Linked DNA regions of Homo sapiens. The protein of the gene in region 3 interacts with the protein of the main gene of each other region in a biochemical or structural test. Each region holds a gene or a part of one and is shown on either strand. Other genes may lie near its edges.

Region 1 (3,650 bases), on a different chromosome or scaffold from region 3:
CAATCTACTACAGAACCCAAAATAAAGAGCTAAAGAGAACTCACCGTGAGATCTAGGAAAACATTAAAATTCAGATCTAGACGTTATCAATCAAATGTATATTTATTAGTAGTAGTAATGGACATAATTATATTAAATAAGTATGATGGATTTCTGACTCCTTTCAAACTTAGAGAATATACGTAAAACTCGTAACAGTGAAAAACATCAGTGTATATTTTGCTGGAAATAAATCGTTAACATTCTGCTCAAGAAAATTAAATCTACTCAAACAAGAAAAAACATCAACCTAAAGAAAAAGTGAGATGGTTCTCACATTATTACTAAGTAAAAATATATACAAACTGTAAAGCCTTACATTTTCACTTTTTGAATCTCTCTCATTCCTAGAACAAGGAAAGTGTAGTACAAGAACCAGACAATTTTTTTCCACTTGTTTATCTTCCATTTGTTGGACATGATATATACCAACCTTTCTTTGGTAGTCCCCTTCCTTTCCCAGATCTGGATCGCCTATCCAGCAACCTTCCCTTTGGACTGGTTGGCACAGTTAATCCACTTCTAAGGGCGTCACTCCCACTGTCGCTGACCGAATCGCCTCTGCCAGAGTCCCGGGATGAGTTTTTCCTTAGTCGCCTTTTTGCCTTGGCATTAATTCTAGCTTCGTTAATGGAGGATGCTGAAATCCAATTTCCATTTATTTCATTCTTTATTTCCTCAGTCCCAGCATTTTCTTCATCACCGGAAAAGAGAGAGTCACTTAAGTTATCAGGATCTTAAAGAGAAAAATGAAGAAAAAAATTCTAAGTATTTTAAGTATCTACTGTTTTATAGATATAGTGGTAAGTTAGATTAGGTTGAATCACATGACATTACCATTTTTGTAGGTAAATTACAGTCACATATTGGGAATTTCATCTACTTCAATCTAATAAACAACTAAATAAGATTACTTTTCACATTATCAAGGAAAGTAAACCAAGGCACTGAATTTTAACAAAGCATGTTTGTTTCTTACCAAAAACAAACCAAATTTGTTTGTTTTTACCAAAAGAAGCATGTTATTTCACGTTTAGATCATAAAATCTATGCTAACAGCAACACCAAATATAAAACCCTTAGACTTTTATGAGCTAATTGGAGATATTAAGAAAAGACAAAGCATCTTGAGAAGAGAGATAAACTAATATTTATAGAATGCCTACTATTAGGCACTGTGCTAGACACTCTATCATTTATTTATGCACAAGTTTGGCAGTTAATTATTATAACATTGAAGACAGATAAGGAAACTAAGGCTGAGAATGTTTAAATGATTTGCCAAACGTCCCATAACTAGGTATAAACACTTAAGAACTATTAGTAATCCAAAAGAGAATGAAAGGCATTTAGCAAATAATCGCATATGATTGTTGAGCTGAACTGCTGATGCTTTACTGCCTCAAGACAAAGTTTGCTTTCAAGAAAAGCCAACATCTCAAAGTCCTAATTCATCTCCCTAAACTTTTCTCCTATTACTTACCATCCTGTAAATCTTCCAGCCTATATAAAATTGATTCTTCTGAAAGAGATCAACATACTGGAGTTCCCAGTAGAATGTCGCCCTCACTGTTATTTTCAGTTATCAAAATCCTTTAGGATATAGCCCAAGTCTTACTCCCTGCATTAAAACTTCCCTTACAACTCTAGGTACAGGAACACTAATTGCTCACATACTATTCATTCAACACGTCATGGAAATCACTTTCTTTTTATATAGCAGTCTTTTTCTTCCAACTAAGTCATAAGCTTCAAAGGAGAAACCACAACTAGACTGTATGTCCTTCTTTGTATCCCCATCACCTAGCAGAGTGTCCTTCATACTCAAATTCCATGGAGATCAAGTGGAGGCACTTGGCTTTGCCCTGAAAGCTCTTTAAGTCAGAAAGGCTACTGAATTAGCTACCACTGGGCCACAGTTTTGTTCATTATTGTTAACGCAAATCAGAGCTGAATCACTCAAATCATTTTCTATATGCCTAAAGATAATTATAACATGTCAGGTCTATGTGCATGGGCTTTAATATGTTTTAAGACATGTTGAAACCAAAAATTTTCACCAACCTATAAAAAGCATACATGTGTTTAAATCTTTACAATTCTTGACATACTTAGGAAGGTAGGAATGTTTTGTTTTAAACAAAATCATCAATTAGAGCCAAATTATTTCACTAGTCTCATAAGTAGTCTCCCTGCCTCCAGTCTTCAAACTATACTGAATGAAGACTGATTTTCTCAAGCATGCCCTCACTGAAGATCCTTTAAAAGTAGTCCCATTATGTCACAAAAAATGTAAACTTTTTTTTTTTTTTTTTTGAGACAGCGTGTCGCTCTGTCACCCAGGCTGGAGTGCAGTGGTGCAATCTCAGCTCACTGCAAGCTCTGCCTCCCGGGTTCACGCCATTCTCCTGCCCCAGCTGGGACTACAGATGCCTGCCACTACGCCTGGCTAATTTTTTTGTGTTTTTAGTACAGATGGGGTCACCGTGTTAGCCAGGATGGTCTTGATCTCCTGACCTCGTGATCCACCTACGTCGGCCTCCCAAAGTGCTGGGATTACAGGCGTGAGCCACCGCACCCAGCCAAAATGTAAACTCTTTACCTTGTAACTTAAGGTCCTTTATGATCTTGCCCCTGCTTACCTCACCAGAATCACTGCTAACTACTCCCACACTCAAATTGTCAGAGCTTAAGTTAGATATCATAGGGAAGAGATGGGAGGGATTCATTTGGCAGAAGAATACTGAGTATATTACAAAAAGAGAAAGTATAAAGTAGGAAACCGCTAAGAAAATGCTTCAGTAATTCAGTCACAAGCTAACTGGTAAAGAGCAAGGGTAGTAACTGTGGGATAAATAATAATGTTACACTTTTAAAGAAAATAATGAAGGACTTTTAAGCAGAATGTATCTAGGATTAAAGAGAAGTCAAACAATGCCTTAAAAGTTTTCAAACTGGTAAGAAGCCGGTGTTAGGATGGTGTGTTTGGGACATCATCATAACCATCAGTAGTAATTATAGTCTTAGTGGAAGTAGTCGTAGTACTGTTTCTTTCATCATTACCATTACTATTGTCATCTATTAGATACCAGGTTCCACACTACCTGGTACCTATTAGATTCCACACTACCTGGTACCTATTAGCTAAGGCACTTTACATATGTGGTCTATAAGCTTCAAGAGCTCTAGAAAGAAACTGTTTATCCTCATTTTACAGAAGGAATGTGTTTCACAAGAAGTTACATATCTAGAAAGGATTATGGCTAGAATTCAAACCCACATTTTTAATCCCATATAACTACAGAAAATACAAAACTAGAATACAGCAGAGTATTGACAGCTAAAGAGACGAACAAGGGCGTGAATGTAAAGAGAGATAAACAAAAATGATTAAGTGGAAGGGGACAGAAAGATCAGGATCACATAAATTAGATGACATTTTCGTGTAAGAGTGGATGGTTGAGAAAAACATTAAACATCTACCTGTAACATAGTGCTTTCATCATTGTGCCATTAAGGTGAACCACAAAACTGGTCCAGAAGACACAGGAGTCAGAACTATAATAAAATGTCTTAAACTGTCCCTTGGAGTATTCAATTTAAATACATCT
Region 2 (3,750 bases), about 26 Mb from region 3:
TCTCCTGAGATATACTCTCTGGCTGCTTGGCCGGCCAAGGGGGTACTTGGCTCTCTACGGGCAGACTCCATACTCTGGAAAGCAGCCTGGGGCCCTGGAGCAAAGGCAGGCTCATATTCACCGGCTTGAGGGCTGGTCCCAGCTCCATGGCTCACTGGCTGTATGATCTTAGCCAAGTCCCTCCATTTCTCTTAGCCTCAGTTTCATCTTTTGTCGCTGTGGGTGATAGCTGCCTGGCAGCATTATTGGGGGTTAGATGAGGACATGAAGGTCAAGTACTTGGCACACACAGGGCTTCTCTCCCCCACCTTAAGTAAGTTCTGCCCTTCAGTAGGTTCAGAAACCCCCAGAACACTCACCTCTGCAGTCAAATCTACTGATTTCTGCCTCCCCTGTGTCTTCCTCTGCCCAGGCCTGGCCCAGGCTTGGTGGGGATATGGGGGGTGGAGGAGAGAAGAGGCCTAGATTGGCTCCAGAAATACAGACCTGTCAGTCTCATGAGGACTGGGGTCCCCTCAGCACAAAGCCCTGGCCCTTGGTGGGCACAGATTTAACTACGAGTGAGTGAATGAATAAAAGAACAAATGAATGAGAAGGAAGGATCTAACCAAATACCCTGTGAGTCTCATAGCTGAGGGCTGTGGTGCCCAGAATGGGGCGAAGGAGTCCAGAACCCAGAGCTCAGGGTCCCAGATGTGCCTCACAGCCGGGGCCAGCTTACCTTGGGTAGCCGGTATTTGTCTCGGAAGTGGCTCCGCAGTGTGGCCCGCTCTGCCTTCCTCTGTGTGAACTGTGCATCCCGCTCCATCCTGCAGGGTCACCGGAGGCAGAGTCACCACGAGGGCTGAGAGAAGGGGGTTGAGGTCTTCGAGGGAGGGACAGAAGGGGTCTCTGAGTCCTAGCAGCTGCTGCATTGGTCCCTGTGTGTAGCAAAAGCGCTCCAACCCGGACATCCAGGTTTCTGCTGCCTCTGCCCATCACAGTGCCCTTTGTCGTCTCTGCCACTGGATGGAACTAGGGAACCAGGGTGGCAGTCTGTCTGGCTCTCTCTGCAGATCCTAATTATTTGTCCCTCATGGCCTCCAACTTGGTCTGCTGTTCCCTCACTGACAAGCTATGTCATGTGGGGAAAAGTATTCAGGCCAAACTTGGGTTCACATCCCAGCTCCACTACCATTTTAGGTATATCCTTAGGTAAGTCACTTACCTTCCTCTTCTGTAAAATGGGGATAAAATTTTGCAACTCACAAAACTGTTATCAGGATTGAGCGAAATAATAGCTATCATTTATGAGACTTTATCATGTGCCAGGTGCTGTGCTAAACAGTTTACATGCATTGGCATTTAATCTTCATAAATATACAAGGCATGTATTATGATTACCATCCCCACTTTCCAGAAAAGGAAACAGAGGCACAGAAAGGTTAAGTAACTTGCCTAAAGTTATCCAGCTAATAGGCAAAGCCAGGCTCTGAACCCAAGTAGCCTAGCAGCAGAGTCCAGCCCCAAACTCTGTCCCAGCACTGCGGGCACACAAGTGCTCAATGTTTGTGAGTGCCCCCATCTCAGGGTCTGTCTCCGCGACTCTGAGCGGCTGCACCACTTTTTTCAGAGCCTCAAGTTCAGAGGAGCCCCAGTTGGAAGACATAGGCGGCTGGGACCAGATCGGATTAAGGGATTATCGTTTCGTCAGAAACGCACGTGCACCCCCTTCCTCGTCCCAGGCTCCGGTCGGTCCCTCGTCCGGTCGCCCCTCCCCCCACTCCCCCTTGGCCGGAGCATGATGCTGGAGCGGGGTTTTGGGTGTCAGATAGGATGGGTCTGGGGGCAGTGTAGAGGACACCTCCCGGTCTCTTACCGTGTCTAGGAAAGTAGGGGAGAAGGGATTGGGACCTGAGGCTGGCCCGGGGATGGACTGAGCAGCTGTGGGGGTGGGGAGGGGAGGTCGTTGGAGCCAGGAAGGGATCCCACTCACTTCTCTTCCACGAGTTGCTTCTGATACTCCTCGTACTCCTCCCGGCTCATGCCCTGAGCTTCGGCTGCCGACTTGTCCCCATCTCCCTTATCCTCGCCGCCTCCCAGGCTCCCAGTGAGGTTCTTCAGCTGGCCGCCCACCATGGTCTTCACCATGAACGCCATGGTCTTCGCCGGCCGGGGCACCGGGCGCCTGCTACCACGCGCCAGGCACCGGGCACGTCCGCGCCTACTTCAGCACTAGGTTTCGCGGACAGCTCCCGCCGCGGGCCCGCGCCCCACGCTTGGCACCGCCCGCCGCCCGCCCCCGCCCGGGCCCGCCCCCACCTCCCCAAACCCCTCCTCACTGGGGGCGGGGGGCAGCACGGGGCTGAGAAGGCTGGACCACGTGCCCGCTCCCCACTCCCGCCTCCCCCACGTGCCTCCTTCAACGCCGAGCTCCGCTGGGCACTGCTGACAGAGGATTAGGGCCTGCGGTGGTGGGGTCGCTCTCCCGGGAGAGGGGTTGAGCTCATACACTCCCGGAACCCTGTTCCATAGCCTCTTCCAACTTTCTCCTCTCCTGGGCCACTAATAACTAGGATTTCAGCTGGGAGATCCAGGTAGCAGCAAGGGGTAAAAACCCAGCCTTGGGTGCCCCCCATTCTCCCCACCCACCCAAGTCACTGAACCCAGCAGCTGCCCAGAGAGCTTGACGCTGGAAAAGGGAGGGAGACCTGAGGGCGCGAGCGGGAATCCCAGTTATGGTTCCACGAGTTGGCCTCTCAGGGTTGCTCTGTCACGCGCCTCCCCTGCTGCCCCTGGAGCAGCTAGGAGTGGGGAGGGAGAGAGCTGCTCAGTGATGCTGGCTGAGCTGGGCCAGGAGGGACACTGGGAGACACTGCTCTCTGTTATGGGTGAGTTTGAGGACAGAATTATATACAGTCATGGCTCTCTTTCCCTCCATAGTCGAGGGTTCAAAGCCCGTGGGGTATCCGGTCTTTTGGAGGTTAAGCCAGGCCTTGGCCTCCTTGCCTGCTTGGAGCGCACTCCCAGCCAGGTACTCAGAAGGGGTGGAAGCCTTCACAGAGATTAGGGTGAGGCTGGAAAGAAGACCAGCATATCACAGCATGGGGAGAGGGAAATCACCTTTAACGAGGTGGGAGCATGCCGAAAGCTCAGGTGTGCGTGGGAGCTGGGCACCCAGACGGAGAGGATACTGACCAAGCCCCCACCCAAGACACTGCCTGCTTCCCAGTGATGCAAAGCAGGCTCTGAGGTGGGTCAGGCAGGCATGCTGGCAGGGAGAGGCTGCCTCCTCAGAATCCCCAGGGCCCTGGGGGTGTGTGGTGCAGGACCCAGAGGAAGGCTGCCTGTGGACAGACACTCCTGAAGGCTCTTGTTCAGCTCCTGCCTGCTGCCAGAGAGAAGGTTACAGGTTACTTGCGTCTCTCCTTTATGGGCTTTTGAAAAACCAGGACTCTCATGCTTGCCTTGCTACACTCACTGCACCACAACCTCCGCTGTTCTTGGACTTTCTGTGGCTCCTTTGGCCCGCTGCATATGGTCCACGCTTTCCCCCTGGGCATGTAAGGTCTGTCCTAGTGGCTCCAGGCTGATTGCCACCACTGCACTCCTGTGCATGTGCTGAAGCCTGTGAGCATTTCTACCTTGTGCTTTTTAAAGCTTAGCTCATTTTACTCCTCCTCCAGGACCATCCCAGCCCACACGGACTCTTCTTGTCTTGAAATTCCACCAACAAAGATTGTCAGTCTCATTGCTGAGGCCTTTAGCACA
Region 3 (3,650 bases):
CAAGGGAGAGTGAGAAAAATGTGCTTTTGGGGATGCTGAGCCCCGAAGCTTCAGGTGCCTCCAGGACTGCCCGGCTAGCCTGAGGGCTGGGCTCCTACACTGTGGGGCTGGGCCAGGGGATCCAGGCACGTACCTTCTCATCATATACAATGCGAGGCCTGATCTCTGGGGCCTGGTAGCCAGGAGTGCCCTCCACGCCTAGGGCGCCCTCATGGAATGACTGCCTCGAAATCCCGTAGTCAGATAGCTTGATGTTGATGTGCTCCTTGACGTCAAGGGACCACACCAGAATGTTGTCCGACTTCAGGTCACAGAAGATGATGTTTTTCTTGTGCAGGTAGGCCAGGCCCGAGGCGATCTGGTAGGCTATTTTTTGGGTGAGCATGTGTCCCAGGGGTATAAAGGAAGAATCTTGCAAAGAAAAACAATTTTCAAATGTATCAAAATTTCAGTTTTGATAGAATCAAATTATCATGATAACAACTGTCTTTTTGTCTTCCGATCTCCCTAGATACTTTATGATTTTTTTTCTTTTTTCTTTTATTGAGACAGAGTCTCCCTCTATCACCCAGGCTGGAGTGCAGTGGCATGGTCTTGGCTCACTGCAACCTCTGCCTCCAGGGTTCAAGCAGTTCTCCTGCCTCAGCCTCCCAAGTTGAGTAGCTAGGACTATAGGCGCGTGCCACCATGCCTGGCTAATTTTCGTATTTTTAGTAGACATGGGGTTTCACCATGTTGGCCAGGCTGGTCTTGAATTCCTGGCTTTAAGCGACCTGCCCGCCTGGGCCTCCCAAAGTGTTGGGATTACACATGTGAGCCACTGCGCCTGGCCCTTAGATACTTTATATTCCATTGACACATTCTCACTATTCACCAGACTGCCATAAAGGACAGAGAATGGCCTGGTTAAGTGAAACAGTATTTAGGATAGAAATGCTCATCGCTGTAGCTTCATTCCTGATATCTTATTCCTGGAATTGCTGGCATTTTGCTGAATGAGCAAGGGTTCGAAATCTCTAGAGTTCACCTCAGGTCAAGGCTGTCCTACGTAAAGGGGTGAGAGGCAAGTAGAAGCATTTTGTTTGGCTGGGCGTGTGGCTCATGCCGGTGATTCCAGCACTTTGGGAGGCTAAAGTGGGGGGATCGACTGAGCTCACAGTTCGAGAACGACCTGGGCAACAGGGTGAAAGGCCATCTCTACAAACAACAACAACAAATTAGCTGGGTGTGGTGGCGTGTGCTTGTAGCTACTCGGGAAGTTGCGGTGGGAGGATGGCTTGAGTTCAGGAGGTCAAAGCTGCAGTGAGCTGAGATTGCACCACTGTCCTCCAGCCTGGCCAACAAAGTGAGATCCTGTATTAAAAAAAAGTAAAGAATTCTGTTTAAAAAATTATCTTCCATTGAGGCAGAAGTGATTGATTTTCATAGCATTTCTTCTTCCTTAGTCAAAAGACAGCTACCTTTCACCCTCTGGCCACTCTGGAGTTTAGCTGCTCTTTTCTCAAGGTAAATTACTTCGACATTTTATGTTAAAATATGGTCCCACTGACCCTGCGGTCTCAGAGTCTCAGCAGCCGTGTACGTGTGCAGTTGGGAAAGTGATTCAATGCAGCTCCCGTGCTCGGTGCCCTCCCAGCGAGGCCTGTTACCATCCTCCTTTTACAGGCAAATAAACTCAGCGGCTTTCCGGACCGCGGCAGAGCCTGGTCTTAGCCGACTCCAGAGTGTGCGCTCCCCCGTCCTCGCCAAGGCTCTGCCTAGTGACTGGACCTGGCGGGGAGCCTGGCCTCGCAGCCAGGGGATGGTCACACGAGCCATGGGTTGGGCGTGCCCTGGGCTTGCCAAGGCCACCTGAGGCTCTACCCCCCGTGCCAGGCAGGAGGCGCCCGGGGCTCTGTCGGTCTCCGGGGCCGGGTGGGGCGGCGCGCCGCGGTACCTCTGGCGTTCTCGGACAGCACGGTGTTGAGGCTGCTGAGCGGCGCGAGCTCCAGGGCGAAGCAGAGCGGGTGGATGCTGATGCCGATGAGCGCCACGATGCAGGGGTGCTGCAGCGCGTGCAGCATGCTGGCCTCCTGCCGGAACTCGGAGAAGTTCTTCATGGCATCGGTGGCCCGCAGGTGCCTCAGCATGGTGTCTGCCAGGGACAGCGCAGTGTCAGCCAGTAGGACATGGGGTGCCTGCAGCCTCAGGCCTCTCTAAGGCCGCACAGAGCTTAGACCCGGGCAGCATATGTCTGAGAAAAACAGCACCAACCTGGGACCCGCTTACCTGCCGGTACGTTAGCAAAGTTCTTGAATTTTTTGATGTGGAAGCGCTTGACGGCCACAGGCTGGCCCTGGTACCGGGCCCGGTAGATGACGGTGCCACTGCCGCCCTGGCCCAGGACGCTGCCCTCGTCCTCGCTGTGCTCCAGCTTGCTGTTCTCCAGGAAGAGCCTGCCACACACGCCCGGCATCAGCCACATCCCCCCCGCCCTGATGCGGGTGGGTCCTGGGCTGGGTCATTTGCCCCAACGGCCGAGAGTCATGGTTCAAAGCCATCTGTGAGGCTGGACAGATCTGGGCCACCCCGGCCCTGCCACTTGTGGGTGAGCACACCTGGGTAGGTTATGCAGGCTTGCTAAGCCTCAGTCTCCTCTGTACAGAGGGCTCTCAGGACAGGAACGGCCTCAGAGGTGGTGATGGCTGGCACAGGGTGAACCCCACAGAAGTGGTGGCCGTAGAGAAAGGACCCCTTTGGAAGTTTTCTTCTGAAAGGTGACGTTTCCTATTTCCTCCCCGATTCTCTCTCTAGTTATGATCTTGGGTTAGCATAGGTACAATAAACTCTAAGAACAGATTTGAGGGGTCCAAGGCTCAGCGCTAGGGCTACAGACAGGAGTCAGCGTTTGACAAAGAAGGTAAACGAGGCTCTGGGTGGGAGCTCAGCGCTAGGGCTACAGACAGGAGTCAGCGTTTGACAAAGAAGGTAAACAAGGCTCTGGGTGGGAGCTCTCCCTTCTCTCCCCTTCCTGAATGCTTGAGGAGCACTGGCTGCACTTATCTGCTGGCCCTAGAGCTGGTGGGGAGGTAGGAGTGGAAAGGAGAGGCAGCTCAGGAGAGAGCAGCTCTGGCTACGAGGGGAAGGGGGAGCCGTATGGGGAGGCAGGATGGCTGCACTTGCAAAGCACTCTTCCCAGTTGGGCCTATCAAGGCCTCCAAAATGGAAAGCCGGCAGCCTGGTTCCTTTCAGGCAGCCGAGGATGGGAACCTAAAAGGTACTGAGATTGGTGGGAAGCCATGGCCGGGGCACCTGCCCGCCCCAGAGGGGTCTTCCTGGAGATCACTCGGCAACTGCACAGCGAGGAACGCCCCCTGTGACCTGCACTGTGTTCTGGGAGGGGCCTTCGGGGCATACCTGGCCGGGAAGTCGGTCATGAACAGTTCAGGGACCAGCTCCTGCAGCGGCACGGGGAGGTCCGGGTGTCTGGGGCAGGAGATGAAGTCCCGCTCGATGGCCGTCAGGACACAGTCTTCCATGTCGAAGTACTGCACATCCTCTGATTTCTCACTGGGGTCCGTGTGCTGGGCCCAGGCTGTCTCGCAGACCGGGCAGGGCACGTACTGCTCCATGAGTGGCGTCCCGTCGCTCTCTGTGGCTGTCAGGGCTAA

The links.
Region 1: the proteins of LRRK1 (region 3) and PDCD4 form a complex in vitro, tested with the Homo sapiens proteins (2 studies listed by BioGRID and IntAct, with this or other methods).
Region 2: the proteins of LRRK1 (region 3) and CPLX3 form a complex in vitro, tested with the Homo sapiens proteins (one large-scale study listed by BioGRID).

What each region holds. Positions count from the first base shown.
Region 1 is NC_000010.11:110,878,358-110,882,007, reverse strand, and holds part of PDCD4 (programmed cell death protein 4), read right to left. Parts: intron 776-3,650; coding exon 473-775; intron 1-472. UniProt on the Homo sapiens protein: Inhibits translation initiation and cap-dependent translation. May excert its function by hindering the interaction between EIF4A1 and EIF4G. Inhibits the helicase activity of EIF4A. Modulates the activation of JUN kinase.
Region 2 is NC_000015.10:74,825,093-74,828,842, reverse strand, and holds the start of CPLX3 (complexin-3), read right to left. Parts: upstream 2,217-3,750; 5' UTR 2,140-2,216; coding exon 1,976-2,139; intron 810-1,975; coding exon 722-809; intron 712-721; exon of another isoform or gene 1-711. Other genes in the region: LMAN1L (protein ERGIC-53-like precursor), read right to left, coding at 3,238-3,367.
Region 3 is NC_000015.10:101,051,707-101,055,356, reverse strand, and holds part of LRRK1 (leucine-rich repeat serine/threonine-protein kinase 1), read right to left. Parts: exon of another isoform or gene 3,647-3,650; coding exon 3,397-3,646; exon of another isoform or gene 2,968-3,396; intron 2,900-2,967; exon of another isoform or gene 2,436-2,899; coding exon 2,269-2,435; intron 2,135-2,268; coding exon 1,937-2,134; intron 412-1,936; coding exon 134-411; intron 1-133.